Homo sapiens: one gene and its partners. The protein of the gene in region 1 interacts with the protein of each later gene in a biochemical or structural test. Each region holds a gene or a part of one and is shown in the gene's direction. Other genes may lie near its edges.

Region 1 (7,913 bases):
TGATCTGTCGCCGGCGCCGCAGGCGAAAAAAGGCGCGGGGGCCTCCGGGGGAGGGAGCGCTGTTCGTCAACGACTACTTGGACGGCCCCTGTACGTTCGCACAGCTAGAGGAGCTCCGCGACGAGCGCGGCCACGAGATGTTCGTCATCAACCGCTCCAAGCCGCTCTTCGCCGAGGGTCCGGCGGAGGCGCCCGCTGACTGCGGCCCGGAACAGGGGGCGGGGCCGGGACTCCGCGTGCCCCCGCCGGTCGCCTACGAGATCCACTGCTAGGGCCGCGGGCGCGCGGATGACGTGGGCGCCGGAGATTGGCCGGTGCGGCCTCGCGCATGCTCCGTCAGTAAAGGTGGAAGCCGCGCAGTGTGCGCTGAGCCGTGTGTGGGGCGCGAGCCGGGAACGTTGCACTCGGGAATCCTGGGGTAGCAATGGAAGGTGGCCGGGGAGGCCCCAACACCTCCCTTGAAGCTCTTCCGAAAAGACATCACCCCAACCTCCAGCTCTGCATGGGGGGGGTCCCTCGCTGGCCCTGGCCGGCCACAGTAGGATCTTGGGCCTCCGAAAGGTGGGAAGAGCAAGGACTGGCCGGCAGTGCCGACGGGGCTGCCCCGCGAAGGGCGGGGCGACAGGCTGGATGGCAGTTGTTGCCGGGTGGCCATGTTGGGGGTGACAGCAGAGATAAGGATAAGGGTGACCAACGTGGACAGAAAAAAAAACAGCCACAAATTCAACTTCCAGGCACATGTGTACCTTGATGACCCCCTCCAGCCCGAGCCCAGCCCAGTGGGGTGGCTGGGTGGCAGGGTAGGGAACACGTAAGAGGCGTGAGTGCCTGGGGACTCCCAGCTTCCCTGAAGCAGGCCTCTGTCCAACTTCAACCCCAGAAGCACTGAGCTCTCAGTAAAGGGAGAGGAAAGGCCCAGAGAGGCCATCATCTCTCTCAGCTCACAACTGGAATCCCAAAGCATTTGCACAAAGGACCAGGACCCCAGACGGCAGCCAAATGCAGCCAAACTGAGCAGGGCAATGGAGGCCTGACATCCAGCCCCGGGGCCCACAGATGATCAGCCAATTATGGAGCAAGTGCAGGGAAAACCGCGTGGGGCACTGCAGAAAGCAGGGGAGGCTTGAGGTGTGCCCAGAAGCAAGGTAGACCCAGCAGGAAACCAGTAACCAGTGCTTTTGTGAAGGCCTCCACCAGGGGTCCCAGCAAAGGCCCTGCCTACCTAAAGAGACTGCAGGGCGGCCTGTGTCTCACCCAGAGCTACTTCATCATAGGCTGAAGTAGTCCGCAGCCAGTCGCCCGTAGATGTCCGTGGTCCAGAGCACATGGGCACGGCCTGAGGCTAGAAGCAGCTGGTGCAACTCAGCTTCTACGCGGGCAAACTTCTCCTCATTGATGGAGGCCTCCAGCAGGACAGAGGCAGGCGGCGGCCAGGGCAAGCCCTCATAGCAGTCCACAGGGAAGGGGTGCACCACAGTACGCAGCTCAGCCTGTGCCACTGAGTCCCGCAGCAGCTCCTTGAGGCCCGCCATGGACAGTGGGTTGCCATAGAGGCCAAGGTACCGGAGACTGGCGCACTGAGTCAGGATGGGTAGTGTGGCCAACAGCTGGGTGTCTGCGAGCTGACACTCAGTCAGCTCCAGATGCAACAGTGTGGCTGCTGATGCCTGCAACAGACCCTGGAAGGGTGCCAGCTGGCTGCCAGACAGGTCGTTACCACTCAGGTCCAACTTCTTGAGGTGGGCAGCATGTGGGCTCCGTGCCAGGAAGCGTAGGTCCTCAGGCAGCAGAGCACAGAAGGCCAACTCCAGGCTCTCCAGGGGGCTCTGCAGGGTGCTACAGGGGACACAGGGGTCACAGACAGGCAGAGCCAGGGAGGGTCCCTACAGAAGGGAGGGGCAGGGCAGTGGTGGGGCCCGCTCACCTGAGCAGCTGGTCCAGCCTCCCTGAAAGGAGAGAGGAGCCCATGCTGAGCTCACGCAGACAGGTGAAGCGGCCCATCTGGGCAAGGAAGTAGCGGAAGTTGTCCTCGCCATCCACGGAGGGCTGCCTTGAATCCCCATGCACATAGTGGAGCCGCAGGCTGGCCAGGTGCTGGAAGCGGGCCACGTGTGGGATGATCACAGACAGGCCGCGCAGGCCCAGATTGTTGAAGCGCAGGTCCACGCGGCGCAGGCAGCCTGCATCCAGAAGCTGCAGCAGGGCCACAGTGTTGCGCATGGGCAGGTCCTCAGCTCGCAGGTCCCGGCAGCAGAGCCGCAGCGGGCTGCCCACGCTGCTTCGGAGTGCCTCCCGCAGGAACGCATAGGAGGCCCGGTTCACCCGCAGGTCCACGCGCACCTCCACGGGGATGGGGGCTGGCCCAGGCTCTGCGGCCCCACCCTGCTGCTGGGCAATGCATGTGCGAGCTACGGCAGCAGTACAGTCCCACATGCTCATGGTGCCAGGATCCTGTTCCACACCATCATCCAAGAGGCCCGTCATGTCCAGCACCCGCAGCGCATGCTTCCTGGGAGTAGGAATGGTGTGAGGAAGGGGTGGAGGGGCAGCGCCCATACCCCCTCCCAGCCACCTTGGGACAGGAGCAACGCGCCTGCTCCTGCATGAGCTCTTGCTAACTTTATGACCCAAGCCTCCTCAGGGGACCCACTTACACACCCCTGGCCTGACGACCCTCCAGATAAGTCCATACCTGCAGAGGGGCTGTGTGCTGGCCCCAGGCTCTGAGGTGTGGAGCCGGGCAGTCAGCCCCAGGATAACAGCCTGCATGCTCTCAGTGCTAGGCCGCTCCTGCAGGAGGGCACGGCTGCAGTGGGCACACTCCTGTAGCAGCTGCTGGAAACTGAGCAGCGGGAAGGGCCACGTGTGTACCAACTCGCGCAGTACCACTGTCTTCTTGTCCATGAAGGCCACCTTGAACAGCAGGGGGAAGAGTTCGCGTGGCAGCAAGGGCAGGGCCTGGCAGGCAGCTGGCTGGCACTGCAGCACCTGCCGTGTGCTCAAGAACACAAGCGTGTGCATGGTGCTGGGCCGGGCAGACGGCCACCTGCAGGAGAGGGACTTCAGCAGGGAGGAGAGACCCTAGGCCACTACCAAGCCACACACAAGTGGTAGGAAGGCCCAGCATAGTGCCTGAAACAAAGTCAGCAGTTAGCAGTGGCCATGGCACAGAGAAGCACCTATTAGATGCCTAGCGCTGGGCTGGGTGCAGTGAACTGGCAGACAAACTCACAACTCAGCCCCAGCCCTCCAGATGCACAGGATCTCTTTAGAGAAACTAAGCGTCAAGCAGTGTGGCATCGTCAACAACTCGCTTGCTTGGGTATGCTTTTGACAGATGCCTGTTGCCTTGCAGGGCCCCCCATGGGTACTTCAGGCCTCTCAAATTACAAAGCTGCTTCACAAAACCTTCTTCGAAACCTGAATAAAGCCCAGGACTCTCCCCACCAACCTTCATCAGCATTAGTATTGACGGGACACTCTAAGGAGTCAAGCAGCCAAATCACCTTTCCCTCCCCTCTCCTCACAGATGCTCTCCAGGGCTACACTTGGACTCCACAAAACACCAAAGAGCTGGAAGCACAGAAGCAGCTTCATAAGCAACAAGGCAGGTTGAAAAGACCGAGACCCAGGGAACACCGAGTCCAGATGATGTAGCCTATAAAATACAAGCCCCCGCAAAAGCTACTATTCTCCAGAGCGTCACCAAGCACGGAGACCCCGAAAGAAAGCAACCCTCACCTTTGTTGGCCCTTACCACTGGCCTAAACCTCTCCCTCTTCCCTGGAGAGCCACTGTGGAAAGACCAAGTCTTAAGTATGTGGGATTCAGAAGGTGCAAAGCTACAGACTGCTCAGACAAGGCAAAGAAAGCTGCCTCAGCAGCACCCAAGCTGCAGAGATGCACAAACACTCCCAAGGCCACAAGGTACCTGTGACACAGGGTGCCAGCCCTGCTGCTGCCTGTAGCATCCTCAAAACTAAATCGCAGCCATCTCCCTGTGACAGATTAGAAAATGAAGGCCTCGGCCTGGCCCAAGGTCACAGCCTGAGTGACAAGCCAGGGAAGGGGGCCGGGGAAGACACTCTGGCCCCAAGGCCCTTCTTTTTGTCGACTTTTCCACATACAAGTAAGTCCTTAAGGCACCGGTTCCTGAAAAGTCCCAGACACCAACCCTCGGCCTAGTTCTGCCGGTGGACAGATCTCAACGATCATACTCGCTCTGACAGGACAGACCAACCGAGCACTTGTCACGGGAGAACACCAAAGCAGACGGCCTGCCCACCAAGGGAGGCAGGCACCTCCGTGCGACGCCCCCTCCCCTCCCGCCGGCCGCAGGGAACGCGACGGTCCTCGGTCGCCTGCGTTTCGCGAAGACGCCCCCGCCCGGCTCCTCCGGGCCTCGAGCCGCGGGAGGCGCTGGACCCTCCGCTCTTTCGCCTCCCGAGCGGGGCCTGCTCCTCCAGGTCGGATGCGTCTCCCACCAGGGCCTGACGCCGCTCCGACCGGCCCGGGGACTCCCAGTCCTTCCCGGCCCGCGGTGGCACCTCCCAGGCTCCCGGCCTCGGCCCCGGGCTCCCAAATGCAGCCACTGCCTCCCTCGGCCAGGCCGCCCCGAGCGACCGGTGCCCCGCCCCTTGAGGCCAGGCAGGGCCAGGGGCGTGCGCCGCCCCGCTCAGACACCCCCCCGGCCGCCCGCGCTCACCGGTCCCGCAACCGCAGCCACCGCCTCCAGCCCCGCCTAGACCGTCCGCCGCTCCCCGCCCGGCGCCGCGGCGCCCCGCGATGACGTTGACGCCTCCCATTGGCTGCTTGTCCGAGGCCCGACGGACTGGCTGCCCAGGGGCGGTGGCCCCGCCCCCGGCCCGCCGCGCATCCGCATTGGCTGTCGGCCCCCGCGACGGCTGCGCGGGAGATTCGCTGGACGATCGCAAGCGCGGAGGCCGGGCGGGCGCGCGCGCCATGGAGCGGCTGCGGGACGTGCGGGAGCGGCTGCAGGCGTGGGAGCGCGCGTTCCGACGGCAGCGCGGGCGGCGACCGAGCCAGGTGCGGGCTGCCCAGGGGCCGAGGGGCTGAGGGCGCGGCCCGCGGCTGACGCGTTCCCTTTACAGGACGACGTGGAGGCGGCGCCGGAGGAGACCCGCGGTGAGCGCGCGGCGGGGCGGCGGGGGCGAGAAGACACCGGGTCGGCAGGGGCCCAGGCCCCACCCTGACCCCGCCTCCCGCTCGCCCACGCAGCGCTCTACCGGGAATACCGCACTCTGAAGCGTACCACGGGCCAGGCCGGCGGCGGGCTCCGCAGCTCCGAGTCGCTCCCCGCGGCGGCCGAAGAGGTACCCAGGCCCCGCCGCCCCAGCCTCCTCCCACTTCCCTGTTTGGCGGAGTGGCGGGAGCCACGGAGTCGCGGCCAGGCCGCCGTGGGGCACAGAACTTGGGAGGGGGACTGGGCAAAGTGAAGAAGGGCCGGGCCTCGCTCCAGGTGCGGGAGGGGTGGCTGGGAGCGCTTCTGCCGCCACAACAGCCTTTTCTGGCCTGTGCCCCTGTTGTCTCCTGCAGGCGCCAGAGCCCCGCTGCTGGGGGCCCCATCTGAATCGGGCTGCGACCAAGAGTCCACAGTCTACGCCAGGGCGGAGCCGCCAGGGCTCGGTGCCGGACTACGGGCAGCGGCTCAAGGCCAATCTGAAAGGCACCCTGCAGGTGAGGAGTGGGCAGGCAGTGAGTCCACGCTAGGTCCACAGCTGCTTCCGGTCCGGGTCGCCCTCTTGTCATTTTTTCCACACAGACAGGCACGGGCCCCTGTGCCAACCAGGGCACGAGTCTTCAGGGAGCTTCTCGGGGCCTTCGCCCTTGACTCCCTTTCTAGTCCAGCCTTGTGCTAATTAGCCTGCTCTACAATTGAGCGTGGGGACTCAGGTAGGTTTTAGAGTCTACAGTAGCTCAGGGGCCTGAGTTCCTCCTGCTGTTCTGTTGTTCCCCTCCCAGGCCGGACCAGCCCTGGGCCGCAGACCGTGGCCTCTAGGAAGAGCCTCATCTAAGGCATCCACCCCAAAGCCCCCAGGTACAGGGCCTGTCCCCTCCTTTGCAGAAAAAGTCAGTGATGAGCCTCCACAGCTCCCTGAGCCCCAGCCAAGGCCAGGCCGGCTCCAGCATCTGCAGGCATCCCTGAGCCAGCGGCTGGGCTCCCTAGATCCTGGCTGGTTACAGCGATGTCACAGTGAGGTCCCAGATTTTCTGGGGGCCCCCAAAGCCTGCAGGCCTGATCTAGGCTCAGAGGAATCACAACTTCTGATCCCTGGTGAGTCGGCTGTCCTTGGTCCTGGTGCTGGCTCCCAGGGCCCAGAGGCTTCAGCCTTCCAAGAAGTCAGCATCCGTGTGGGGAGCCCCCAGCCCAGCAGCAGTGGAGGCGAGAAGCGGAGATGGAACGAGGAGCCCTGGGAGAGCCCCGCACAGGTCCAGCAGGAGAGCAGCCAAGCTGGACCCCCATCGGAGGGGGCTGGGGCTGTAGCAGTTGAGGAAGACCCTCCAGGGGAACCTGTACAGGCACAGCCACCTCAGCCCTGCAGCAGCCCATCGAACCCCAGGTACCACGGACTCAGCCCCTCCAGTCAAGCTAGGGCTGGGAAGGCTGAGGGCACAGCCCCCCTGCACATCTTCCCTCGGCTGGCCCGCCATGACAGGGGCAATTACGTACGGCTCAACATGAAGCAGAAACACTACGTGCGGGGCCGGGCACTCCGTAGCAGGCTCCTCCGCAAGCAGGTAAGACAGCGACGGGCCAGGACAGGCATTCCCTTTCCCTCCCCTCAGCCCTCCCGTATTTCCCGCCCAGTGACCCTCCTATGTGGGCACCCCCCAGGCATGGAAGCAGAAGTGGCGGAAGAAAGGGGAGTGTTTTGGGGGTGGTGGTGCCACAGTCACAACCAAGGAGTCTTGTTTCCTGAACGAGCAGTTCGATCACTGGGCAGCCCAGTGTCCCCGGCCAGGTGAGACATCTGCCCTGGAGGGTGGGTCCGGCCAACACTGTGGAGAGGGCGCAGTGCTCTTTTGGGGGACACTTATGTTCCAAGCAACAGGCCTTCCAGGTACCCCTGGTCCAGGCCCTACCCTAGCTCCCCTGAAGGAGGGTGGCAGGGACGACGATGGCTGTCACTCTTTTCTGCTTTGGAAAAAGTAGCCCAGAGGAAGGGCACTGCCTGCTGCCAACCCCCTTTGGGGGAAGGAGAGGTTGTGGCCAGTGGTTGTCTTGCCCGACCTGGAGCTCCCATTCTACCCTCTCCTGCCTGCCCCAGCAAGTGAGGAAGACACAGATGCTGTTGGGCCTGAGCCACTGGTTCCTTCACCACAACCTGTACCTGAGGTGCCCAGCCTGGACCCCACCGTGCTGCCACTCTACTCCCTGGGGCCCTCAGGGCAGTTGGCAGGTGAGCAGTCAGCTTCTGGCCCAGAGCCTTCACTGAGGGGTTGGGGTGACTCAAGTCATGGTGATCAACATCTGTGTCTGCAGAGACGCCGGCTGAGGTGTTCCAGGCCCTGGAGCAGCTGGGGCACCAAGCCTTTCGCCCTGGGCAGGAGCGTGCAGTCATGCGGATCCTGTCTGGTGAGCGTGGCTGCCAGGGCTGAGGCTGGGCTGAGGCCAGGCTGCAGAACCCTGCTGCTGACTCCCGCCCCATCCAGGCATCTCCACGCTGCTGGTGCTGCCTACAGGTGCCGGCAAGTCCCTGTGCTACCAGCTCCCAGCGCTGCTCTACAGCCGGCGCAGCCCCTGCCTCACGTTGGTCGTCTCTCCCCTGCTGTCACTCATGGATGACCAGGTGTGCACACAGGGCCCTGGGCACACGTACACAGCCAAGAACCAGCACTTGTGACTCCCAAGGGCAACTGCTGCTTGTCCCCTAACCACCCCCTCCCCTGGG
Region 2 (4,339 bases), on another chromosome or scaffold:
ACCACCTGGTTCAAATCCCATCACAGAAATTGTCTTGCTGTGAAATCTAAATCAAATGTCTGGACTTTTTGTTCCTGTAGTATGGTGATGGTAATAATCAGGATTATTGTGAGGATTGTATAAGTACTAGCACATAGTAAGCACTCATGTTGTTTGCTATTATTGTTACTCCCACTTCTCCCCTCTGGTGGCATGTAACCTGCACGGACCTTGGAGGACTGAACAAAGGGGGCAAACGTGGGAATAAAAGACAAAGACAAGAGAGTATATTTGGAAGAAGGGGTCAGGGGGCACCTTGCCTCTAGTGGACAAGGGCCCTGAGCTTTACACAGCCCTCTGTATTTATTAGGCAAAAGAGATAGTGAGAAGCAGGGGTGATTGTCGGGTAATTGTCAGTCCATTTGGCAGTTTGGTTCACAGCAGGCTTGCGAGACTGCATCATTTGAACAGTAGGCGCTAGATTTCCCAGTAGATAAGTTCAAGGAGCCCTGCACCAGGGAGTGATGGCCCCCAGCAAACCCTTTGGTGGCAGGCTCAGTGTGAGTTTACTCACATCCTGCATTCATGATAAACAGTTTGCTGTTTGGTCATATAGCCTCCAGTGGAATGCTGAGTTGGTCACGATCCCTTTGGCCTTTCTTGCTCCCAACAGTGGCAGTCTGCACATAGTGCCCTAGCATTCTTCTTTGTATATCAGAGTATATGTAGAACTACATGGAAGAAAGACTAGTCAGAAAGGATAATGGAGAAGGCATCTGTGTCCCCTGTTACCTGTAGTAACAGCGTATAGTCTGTCTCTCTCCCTATCTCATCTCCTAGTAGAAAAAGAAAACTGTTTCATTTGCAGTCATCTGAATTAGTTTAGCATCAAAGCCTACGTCTTTTGTGATCTAAATAAAATTATTTTTATTACTCTGTTTCTCTAAATCTGCATTATAAAAAGCTAATTTTCCTTTTTATTTTAGGGTGGAATTGCGTTTGTTGCCATAAAAGGAGCATTTAAAGTTTACTTCAAACAGCAGCAATATTTACGACAGGCACACCGCAAAATTCTGAATTATCCAGAACAAGAAGAAGCATAAAACTGACTTCTGGTTGTTCTGCAGTTCTCTCATCCTTATGAATCTGTTGTGTTGTTTTGATTCCATCATTAATGCACTTGTGGAGACTTGTGATAAGCTGCTGCTCCTATATTTTTTAAGAAATATAATAAAGCACTTAGGGCAGGGGAAATCATCTCGGTAATCATGGAACCTAAGGATGTGATTTGTTTTCATTGTTTGTATGTACTACTTTTATGGCAGTCATATGAACCATTATCTTAGCATGGTAAACCTGGGTTTTGTTCATATTTTCTCCAGACAGAAATGCAAAGATCAAACTGTGCAAATATTAAAAAAATGCACATGCTGTTTTATTCAAATGCCTCTTTTGTACATGTTCATGTTTAGTGTTTTCTCAGAATCAGCAACTCAAGGTACTATGAGGATTTTTCTCACTGACATAATTTGATTACATACTAAATAAGAGGATATGTTAATATGAGGAAATGTAAATTAAATTAGTTATAAATAAATAACCAAAAATGTATGTAAACATTCAAATGATTATCTGAACAAATGAGATTTTGTGGTGTTTTCTTTAACCCATGTGATGTCCTCCAAAATGTGTAGGGTAAAAATTCACAGGGCTTCCAGATCACTTTTTCAATATTAAATTTTATTTACATAATGTTGACATCTCATACTTCATGAAGTAATTTTGACTCATGCAGTCGTGTGTGTGTGTGTGTGTGTGTGTGTGTGTGTGTGTGTATTTGTGTGTTTCAGTGTTTCATCAGGTCCTTCCATCTCTGGGAGTTTTTTCAACCCATATTTCTAGAAATTACAGCTGCCAGTTTATAGTAGTTTGAGCAGAGGATGATTTGCAAAAATAAAAATAAAGTTATTTTACTCTCCTCTTGCATTGATTCAGTTATTGAGATATTCGTTGATCACCTCCTATTTCCCAGGCACTGTGCAGAGTGCTGTAGGACATAGTGGTGAACAAGACAGACTTGGTCCAAGCTCTTACAGAGTTGACAGTCTAGTTTCAGCACATAGAAAACCAGCAGTGAATAAACCAAGGTGAGGCCTTGAGCTCTTTGTTTTTATATTAATGAGGAGAAAAGTATGAAAACAAGAAGTCTTAAGTAAATATTGAGGTCATTGTTTTTGGCTTAAGTTTATTATAGAAAATCAACACTAATGTTTTTAGATTTTAATTGTCCTATTGATGAGGCTAGCACCTTAATCACTGTTTAGTTTTGTATTCATTTTTAAAAGCAATTATTGAAGCCATTTTCAATAGATTGGCCATTTTAATGTTCAGCAACCTGAATGGTTATTTTTGTTAATTAAAATTAAATTTTTAAGAGATATTTTCAAAACCCTATTTATTTTCTTGTTCACAGTAATGCATGTCAATAATAAATGTTTCCCCTTACTGATAAGCGGCCACTTTAGGAGTGTAGCAAATATAGATTGAGCTATGTTAGTTTGCAATAATATATGTTAACTTTAGTAATTAAAGACTGGTTTCTATAGTATGAATGTCTTAATTTTGAGTTATATGATGTTTATTTGAATGACTGTTGAACATTCAAATTTGTATTATTTGGAGATGAAGATTTGACTAACAGTGAGCCTTATTAAGAACACTACTACAGTTCTGAAGGGGAAATATAACATCTATGGTTATATATTTTAAAAACTTAGATTATAGGCTGTAATTATAAAATATATTGGCTTTTGTTTTCAATGTGAAAGATACATTAAATGGACACATATCTTGCAAAATTTTGTTGTATAGAACAGTTTTTAGGCAGCCTTTACTAAAGTTATGCAAACACACAGTTCCCCATTTACTACATTAATGCCCTTGACAGGGAGTAGCTGCTTGGTTTTATAGGTATTAGGGCTCATGAAGGCCGGGGAACAACTCTAATCCTTTTGGGGCAGGAGGGAGGGTTTTTTTAGGGTTGCGGGGAGGGAACTGCAAGTGCCTGAGGACCAGAGTGGCCTCTAGCCCCGAATTGAACACTTTTAAACCTAAAGAGCCTTATTATTATTAGCTCGAGAAATACCACATGCCAGTCTTCCCAGGAAGGTGACCTGCCTGACCATGAAGCAACAAAAGAGCATAGGCAGACTTAAAGTTGGATAGACCTGGGTTCAAATCATAGTTCAGCTTTCAATAACTGTATGTATGATTTTGGCTAAAGGATTTGACTTTCTCTCAACTGCAGTTTTCTTAATCTTTGAAATGCAAATAATGTTTATCTCAGAAGACTATTTCTAGGATTAACTGAGAGATTAAAGGAACAGCAGCACTTAGGCTCAAAATCGCCCCTACAAAGCAGTAGTTGTTTCTTAATTGCTAAGTAATCTGTTTGCACTCTAGGAAAAGTAAATGGAGAGGTAAAAGAAAGGCATTGGGGACAAATGAAAGAGATGATGTAGATTTTTCGGATGGGTGGGTATATTTTATTTTCCAGTTTATTTTCATATTTCTTTACTGTGTTATTTCTGGAAACTTTAATGTTTTAAACCTCTTTTATAAAATTCAATGACGACTACTAGAATTCTTTTCAAAAGTTAACTTATCTCCAAAGTGGCTGAAAATATTGTTTACCATTACATGATTATGAAATGACTGTGAAGAATATAAAATTAAACTTAGTGACTTAATTAGTCACTGCCTTGCTAACTTTGCTGTAATTTTTTTAAACGTCTTGTTTTTAATATAGCAAACTATCTCAATACTGGCTGGATTAGGTTAAATAAAGAATTTTTATGTTCTCTAGGTGTACTTTGTTAAATCTCAAAACATTCTGTACATACATAATTTTTTTTAATCACAGTTATCGAGATACTAGTTTTTGTAAGTAAAAGTAATCTGAATTTAAAAAAAAAACTGTATGGAAGAATTTGTCCTAATTTTGTAAACAGGCTAGCCTATATTCTAAGTATGTTCTAATGACTAAACTACATCCCCACTCACCCACCCTCAAAGCCTCTTGCACTGAGTATAATTAAGCAACTAGACAAGATCTGTGGGTGGTCTCATGCCATGATGTCTTAAAGTGTATTCGAGTGAGTTGGGAACACAAACTGCTTCTGAGATATTAAGAACTTAAATTTCTGAAGTAGAAGATTAGAATCCTCTAGAATGAGTTAAAGGTCTTTTCCTTGCATCCATTTGGGGATTATATTGGTTTTAAGTCATTTCATTACCCCATCTGAGAGACAGATGCTAAGAGGAGAAAGGGCATAGAATTGAACAGTCCTGGATGCATATG
Region 3 (7,601 bases), on another chromosome or scaffold:
TATTCTCCTTTGTAATAAATTTTGAAAAAATGGGGACCGTGCAGAAATAACAGCCTTGTGGGCTTTGAGCTCTTCATCTAAACAGTTCTGATGTCCACCAAAAGCTTCAACCAGTTCAGAGTCTGAAGAAAAGCTAAGGACGACATCGTAATAACACATGTAATCAAAGAGTCCACGCATATCTACATCAAGGGAATTCTTCACTAAGCTGAACAAGGATAACGACATTTTGAAACCCTGAGTCTTCCATTCCAAACTCTCCTGTATAAAGATAGTATAACAAAGCAGAAAACATGGGCATATCAATACCAGCTGTATTGATGTCCATTATTATCTCTGCCCCATACTCAGGTGAGGAAGAAAGCATTTAAAAAATGGACACCTTGCTGCCAAAATGGCACGATGAACAGGATAACAAGTTTCTTGAAATATGAAATCTGTATCAGTACGATACTTGTACTCATAAAGATCAGCCATATCTTTCTGCAATGTCCGGGCTTCCGGTCTAGCCAAACTGGCTTGTAGGGAAAGCTTCTTTAATGCTGACCTTCCCTCATATTCCTCCGCTAATGCATTGACATCTCTAATATCCCACCCAGAGAGGAGTTCTCGCATCTGCTTGGCATGATCGGCAGACCTATCAGATTTTCGAGGCTTAATTAAGTTCTTTTTGAAGGTAGCAGGGCCAGAGGTCTTTTTTTTTTTTTTTTTTTTTTTTTTTTTTTGAGACAGTCTGGCTTTGTCGCCCAGGCTGGAGTGCAGTGGCTCGATCTCGGCTCACTGCAAGCTCTGCCTCCCAGGTTCCCGCCATTCTCCTGCCTCAGCCTCCCGAGTAGCTGGGACTACAGGCGCCCGCCACCACGCCCGGCTAATTTTTTGTATTTTTTAGTAGAGACAGGGTTTCACCATATTAGCCAGGATGGTCTCGATCTCCTGACGTCGTGATCCGCCCGTCTCGGCCTCCCAAAGTGCTGGGATTACAGGCGTGAGCCACCGTGCCCGGCCTCTTTTTTTTGTCTTGTGGTTTCTCATGGCCATGGTCAAGGCTATACAATTTTGATTCACAACCATAGCCTTGCTGAGAATAGGATGACGTCCCTATAAAAGTCTGTTGGGCCTGTGAATTTCCCCCTACCTTCGCGGAACATGGATGAGGATAATGAGATGCATTAGCACCCATTTTCTTCAGTCATTCAGGCATTCCGTCTGCGGGTTCTTCAGAGTATAATCCTAGAGGCCATTAGGAACCTTCAACCCTGGATCCAGCAGCCTCTTTCCATCTATTTCTATGAGAACAGGGCCATTAGACCTTACTTTAGTGCATACTATTGAAGTATGAAAGGCTGTGGGCAGCCAGACACACGGACAGTGCATTCTGTAAGAACCACACAGCAAGCATCCTCAAGTGTTTACTATACAGTCTGCCCTTCGTATTCCGTAGGTTCCTCATCCACAGTTCAATCGACCTGGAGGCTCCTCCCGCCGCCGCTGCTGCTGCTGCCGCAGGGACCTCGGCCGTCGCCCCCGCCGCCTCCGCCACCAGCACCGCGGCAGGCACCGGCGCCAGCACACCGCCGCCATCCTCCTCCCACCGCCGCCGCCGCCCTCTCCTCTCCTGTCAGTGGCTCAGGCTCCGGGACTGCTCCAGTTTTCCCTCGCCGCCATTTTGATTCCTAGAGGGAGCAGGAAGGGCTCGGCTTGGACTTTTTGTGTTTTTTTTTGTTTTTTGTTTTTTTGAGGCGGAGTTTTGCTCTTGTTGCCTAGGCTGGAGTGCAGTGGCCGATCTCGGCCCACTGCAACCTCCGTCTTCCGGGTTCAAGCGATTCTACTGCCTCAGCCTCCCGCGTAGCTGGGATTACAAGCATGCGCCAATACTTCCGGTTCATTTTTGCATTTTTTTTAGTAGAGATGAGGTTTCACCATGTTGGCCAGACTGGTCTCGAACTCCTGACCTCAGGTGATCTGCCAGCTTCGGCCTCCCAAAGTCCTGGGATTACAGACATGAGCCACCGTGCCCGGCCCACTTTTAATACATTAAAGGGGTCTGTGATAAACATCCTCCTACCGCCCAAAAAAGGTTAAGGACCACTGCAATATGGGCTGTTTGCTTTAGATTTCATTTTAGATAGATGTTGATAACTGTCAGAGCTGTTCTTTTTTGGCCTTCGTTTGTATTCTAAGGAGAGTCCAGGCCTCTCCTTAGAACCCCAGATCTGGAGATCAAGCTGGCTACCGTGCCTTTCTTAATCAGCATCTCTCATACATCTCATTCTGAAATAGAAAACTAAATCTATCTTCTCCCCTAAACCTGTTCCGTTCTTCCTATGTCTCCTACTTCAGTGCACAACCTCAAAAACGACCCTATTGTATAAATCAGAAACCTAACAGTCATCCTAAACCTGTCTCCCCATCCCCTCTCTGCTTCCTTCTCGCTAATATCTCCACATTCAATGGATGTTTTAAAAATATAAACTCAAGATTTTATTGTCTTCATAATAAAAGAAAACATGACACTTAGAACTGGATCACTTGGCCGTTTCTCTTCTTACCTCCTCCCAGTTCAAAATGCTAGCATATTTTAATAGCCAGCACTCTCTTAGAGCTGCAGCTGGGCTCAACGCACTCAAGCCTTGGCACAATTTTCTGTAGTTTTAGCCCTTTCCTGGAAAATCGGCTTAATTTGCCCACGATAGCCACTCTGCTTCCTGTCATAACGCCGCTTTCCCTGGGCATACAGAGAATCCTTCTCCTTCGTGTACAGTGTCACTTTGTGGGGTTGGTGCTTGCCACACTTCTTATAGAAAGTCTGGCGGGTTTTAGGAAACTTCGTAATGTTTGTGTGAGCGCTATCGGCACGGAAAAGCCACATTCAATGGATTTTAAAAAATCTATTTGCCTAATTGTTTCTCAAAATCACCTCCACTTCTTTTCTCAAAGTCACCACTATACTAATTCCAATAAAAAGTGCTTGATTCTTCACTTAAGGAAGGTTTGCGGGCTTAGGTTGGTTCTGTTTCTGACTCCTTGCCCGGAACTGGATGCAAAGAGGACCTGGAAAGTGAAGGTGAAGAAAAGAACTTCAGAGTACTGATCAGAATTAGTCAAGGAATTTCTGCATAATGGCTAAGAATAAATCTATGACGAATCTTTTTTTTTTAATAACTAGATGTAGTGATGCATTTATTTATTTATTTATTTATTTATTTATTTATTTATTTAGACAGAGTCTGGCTCTGTCGCCAGGCTGGAGTGCAGTGGCGAGATCTCGGCTCATCACTGCAATCGCCACCTCCCAGGTTCAAGCGATTCTCCGCCTCAGCCTCCCAAGTAGCTGGGATTACAGACGCGCACCACTACGCCCAGCTAATTTTTGTGTTGTGTGTGTTTTTAGTAGAGATGGGGTTTCACCATGTTGGCCAGGCTGGTCTCGAACTCCTAACCTCGTGATCCACCCACCTCGGCCTCCCAAAGTGCTGGGATTACAGGGGTGAGCCACCGTGCCCGGCCTTAGTGCCGTATGTTTAAAAGTACGCATTTAAACATACTTTTTCAATTTGATTACTAGAGTTCCTCCATTACTATGAATTTTTAACACTAGCAGCTCTCAGAAATGGTTGTATTCCTATTCCTGAGCCAATATAGGTTTAAGTAATAGGGCTGAGCTCATAAATGGAGCAGTAATATTCCATTAGGACACAGAAAAAAGTCAACGTAGATGGCATCAGGACTGTTTATCTTCAGTCTTCCTAAAGTCGATTTTAATTGTTCTGAAAATGAAAGTACGTAGTGGATAGAGATAGGATCTTATACCAAAGGGATTATTAGTGGGGGAACTGCAGTGCCTGAACAGTGTCTGCAAGGAGGAAAAGGGGGGAAAGACTTAAAGTGGCCATTTGGTCCATCAAAGTCTCTTCTGCTATCAATCCCTTGAAATTATGTAAAAGCTAAATGTTATTCTGCATTTAGAAACTATGTTCTTAGTATTATGTACAAACACTATTTTTTAGAATGTAAATACATAAAGAGGCCTGAATTTTACTGAAAAAAAAATCTGTGAAAGATATGGTCTGCTGATAAGTTCTCTTCAGCCCTGACGCCCCTTAGAAGTCCCAAAATCTATGGAACAGGAATTACTCGGGAAATGGTGGTTTCAGTGTAAAAGATGTCATCTACCCTTTCCCTCACTGCACAGATGGTGAAGGGGAAACTCAGAGAGATAAGTCACTTCCCCAAGGTCAGACAGGGTAAAAGTGGACCGGATCTGTTTGGTCCTGAGCCCAAACATTTCGAATGGACATAAGGCTGACAAAGGAACAGTCGGTCCCAGAGCGTCAGGAGTTGAGGTGGGATGGGACCGCAGGGAAAATACTGGGTGGGATGACTTAAACTTCCCGGCACCAGGGGGCGCCAGACACTCTATTTTACCTAAAGGAGACTGGCTTCTACCGACAGGAAGGTCCCTTGCCCCCAACAAAGAGGGCGTCCAATGACGTAAACCAATCCGATTGCTCTGTGCCAGGGCCGGGATTCGCTGGCGTAGCCAGTCAGTGCTGCCCCACAGCCGCGTGCGTCTGACGTCAAGGCAGGGGCGGGATCCGGTTGGAATTTTGGCGGGTTCAGCTGTGAACGAAGAAGGCGTCCCGGCATCGGGTGAGGAGCGCGGGCCCCGGGCGTGCGTGTGACCCTCGGGCGGCGGGGCCGGGGCCGCCTCGCACGTCTCTGCGCGGGTTGCAAGGGGTCCGAGGCTAGAGGCGCGGGGTCCCGGGAGCTCGGGTGGGCGCGATCTGGATTTGGCGGCAGCTTGGGACCGCTCGGAGCTGGCATGGCCGGGCCGGGGGCTGGGAGTTGCTGGCCGTCTACTAAGGAATCGGGTTCTTCCTTTTAAACGCAGCCTTTTAAGTGCTTGCCAAGTGCCTGCCGCCTGGGCTTTCTTTTATTCATTCATTCATTCATTCATTCATTGGTTTCTCGTATTCATGATTTGCCAATGATTATTGAATGCGGACGGTGTGCATGGCTCGGATCACATTTCCGCTGCCTTCACAGCGCTTACAGTTTAAAGGCACGAGCAGGTAGTAAACAAATGCACGACAGTGGACGACTCAGGGTGGTCCAGAAAGTCTCAGAAAGATGAGTAAGTGGAGACCGAAGGGCGAGAAGGACCTGGGGGGAGCTTTCTTCGACAGAGCCTGAGACCTCAAAGCAGCTTAGTGTGTTCCAGAAGGTGGAAGCGGGCTGGCCCGGCTGGAGCATCGTTATGGGTGTCGGGGTGGGTAGAATTGGACGTGGTGGATTGTGGAAAATGTGAGGGAGTAGAAAGCTTGGAAAGAGAGAGAGAATATGAATCATTGCCTCGCAGGCTTTGTAGATTTTTTCTAAGGGCAATGGAAAATCATTAAAGAATTTCAATGAAGGGACCCCCATGATCTGATTTATGTTCCTAAAGGTTACTAAGGAAAGGGAAGATTACCGTGGCTGTCGTATGCAGAACAGATTGCACGGGGACAAAGAGACCAACATAGAAAGCTAACACAGTCATTGGGTTAAAGGTTGACGGTGGCTTGGCCTAGGGTTCTGGCAGTGAAGTTGGAGAGAAGTGGCAGATTTGAGCAGTGTTTTGGAGATGGGACCACAGTACTTGTCAGTGGCCGTGGATTTGAGGGCGAGGGAGGGTGCACAGTTTCATTTTGGGGGAAGGCAAGGCCGGTTACAGACTTGAACGAGACAGTTTGCTCCTAACGCTCAGGAAGCTTACTGTCCAATAGGTTCCCCAGTAGATAGCACAGTGTGTGGCACATGAGGGATCCGTGGAAATGTTGGTTGAATGAATTTTTAAAAAGCGGCCAGGCGCGGTGGCTCACGCCTGTAATCCCAGCGCTTTGGGAGGCCAAGGCGGACGGATCACCAGGTCAGGAGATCGAGACCATCCTGGCTAATACGGTGAAACCCCATCTCTACTAAAAATACAAAAAATTAGCCGGGCGTGGTGGCGGGCGCCTGTAGTCCCAGCTACTCGGGAGGCTGAGGCAGGAGAATGGCGTGAACCCGGGAGGCGGAGCTTGCAGTGAGCCAAGATCGCCCCATTGCACTCCAGCCTGGGTGACAGAGACTCCGTCTCAAAAAAAAAAAAAAGCACCTTTGGGAGTCCAAGGCTGATGGATCACTTGACATCAGGAGTTCAAGACCAGCCTGGGCAACATGGCGAAACCCTGTCTCTACAAAAAACACAAAAATTAGCCGGGTGTGGTAGTGCACGTTTGTAATCCCAGCTACTTGGGAGGCTGGGGCAGGAGAATCACTGGAGCCTGGGAGGCGGAGGTTGTAGTGAGCCAATAGCACCACTGCACTCCAGCCCCAGCGACAGAGCGAGATCCTGTCTAAAAAAAGAAAAGAAAGTACCATAATCACTGTAATTAGTTCCTTGACATTGAACTTGCCAAAGAGCACATGTAAGTTAAATAAGAGCCTAGAAAAATGTATACTTTCTTACTTGCAGTTTAAAAAATAACCTTAAATGAAAAGAGAAGTGCACAAAGTGATACAACTTTGTCTTAATTAGCTACGCTGTTTCTCTGTGCTTTGCTGACTAGTATTGAATCAAAATCCTGATTGTCACTAAGGCTCCACCTAAGTAGAATCATACAGTAAGCTGTCGTGGATAACGCAGATGTCAGGTGTATTACAGTGAATAAAATGAAAGAATAGCCTAATGTAGATCGACCCCAATAATTTGTGTGTGTGTGTGTGTAATTTTTAAAAAAGACAAGGTCTTGCTATGTGACCAGGCTGGTCTCAAACTTCTGGCCTCAAGTGATGCGCCCACCTTAGCTTCCCAAAGTGCTGGTATTACAGGCGTTGAGCCACTGTACCTAGCCAACCCCAATAGTTCTTCCTCATAATTTATCTCATCCACGTAATCTAGTGTGATTTACAAACTGCTCTGCAGCTCAATAACTTTCTGTAACCTTAAACACAAGTAAAAGTGAGCTGCTACATCCAAGGAAGGAGATGGCATTGGCGGTGTGGAGAGAGGAGGTGAGAAATGGTCAGATTCTGGATGAATTCTGAGGTTAGAGCCCATAGGAGTGGTAGGATTCTGGGTTTGTTGGATGTGTGTTGTGAGAGAAAGAGAAGAATTGAAAGTGACATTTCTAATATTGCTTTCACACAGCCAAGATTCTACATTGCTCATCTGGGCATCTGAGCCTCCTTCGAAGTTTCCTGTCACAACTGTCCTCTTGACAGCATGGATGGTAAGACCTGGCAGTTTTCTGTTACTCTGTTTCAAGGAAAACTAACCTTTTGTCCATGGACTTGTTATTTATTCTACCTGTAAAATGGTGAAAATGCTCCCCAGCCCTCAGGTATTGTCTTAGTGGTTCTGAAGCAATCTCACATCTCACAGAGGTCACTGAATGTTACTTGCTTTTATCAGGGGAGATTTCTTCTGGCAACAGAGATTGTCTTTCATAATTACAATAGCTGGTAGGTGTACAGTGGGCCAGGCACTGCTCCAAGATCCTTGTGGAAATTAACTGATTCAGTCCTCAGGCAAACGTATTTTATAGGCAGAAAAACAGGGATGTTTAGTAACTTGTCAC

What was found.
Region 2: the proteins of RECQL4 (region 1) and MARCHF5 form a complex in vitro, tested with the Homo sapiens proteins (one study listed by BioGRID).
Region 3: the proteins of RECQL4 (region 1) and MCM10 form a complex in vitro, tested with the Homo sapiens proteins (one study listed by BioGRID).

What each region holds. Positions count from the first base shown.
Region 1 is NC_000008.11:144,514,834-144,522,746, reverse strand, and holds the start of RECQL4 (ATP-dependent DNA helicase Q4), read left to right. Parts: upstream 1-4,913; 5' UTR 4,914-4,962; coding exon 4,963-5,046; exon of another isoform or gene 5,047-5,111; coding exon 5,112-5,145; intron 5,146-5,238; coding exon 5,239-5,333; intron 5,334-5,556; coding exon 5,557-5,697; intron 5,698-5,982; coding exon 5,983-6,759; intron 6,760-6,856; coding exon 6,857-6,983; intron 6,984-7,289; coding exon 7,290-7,421; intron 7,422-7,504; coding exon 7,505-7,597; intron 7,598-7,674; coding exon 7,675-7,811; intron 7,812-7,913. Other genes in the region: LRRC24 (leucine-rich repeat-containing protein 24 precursor), read left to right, coding at 1-272; LRRC14 (leucine-rich repeat-containing protein 14), read right to left, coding at 1,269-1,836, 1,925-2,509, 2,693-3,021. UniProt on the Homo sapiens protein: An ATP-dependent DNA helicase which unwinds dsDNA with a 3'-overhang in a 3'-5' direction. Does not unwind more than 18 bp of dsDNA. May modulate chromosome segregation. The N-terminal domain (residues 1-54) binds DNA Y-shaped DNA better than ss- or dsDNA.
Region 2 is NC_000010.11:92,350,126-92,354,464, forward strand, and holds the end of MARCHF5 (E3 ubiquitin-protein ligase MARCHF5), read left to right. Parts: intron 1-965; coding exon 966-1,082; 3' UTR 1,083-3,839; downstream 3,840-4,339. UniProt on the Homo sapiens protein: Mitochondrial E3 ubiquitin-protein ligase that plays a crucial role in the control of mitochondrial morphology by acting as a positive regulator of mitochondrial fission and as an important regulator of immune response.
Region 3 is NC_000010.11:13,156,957-13,164,557, forward strand, and holds the start of MCM10 (protein MCM10 homolog), read left to right. Parts: upstream 1-4,601; 5' UTR 4,602-4,650; exon of another isoform or gene 4,651-5,269; intron 5,270-7,171; 5' UTR 7,172-7,246; coding exon 7,247-7,253; intron 7,254-7,601. UniProt on the Homo sapiens protein: Acts as a replication initiation factor that brings together the MCM2-7 helicase and the DNA polymerase alpha/primase complex in order to initiate DNA replication. Additionally, plays a role in preventing DNA damage during replication.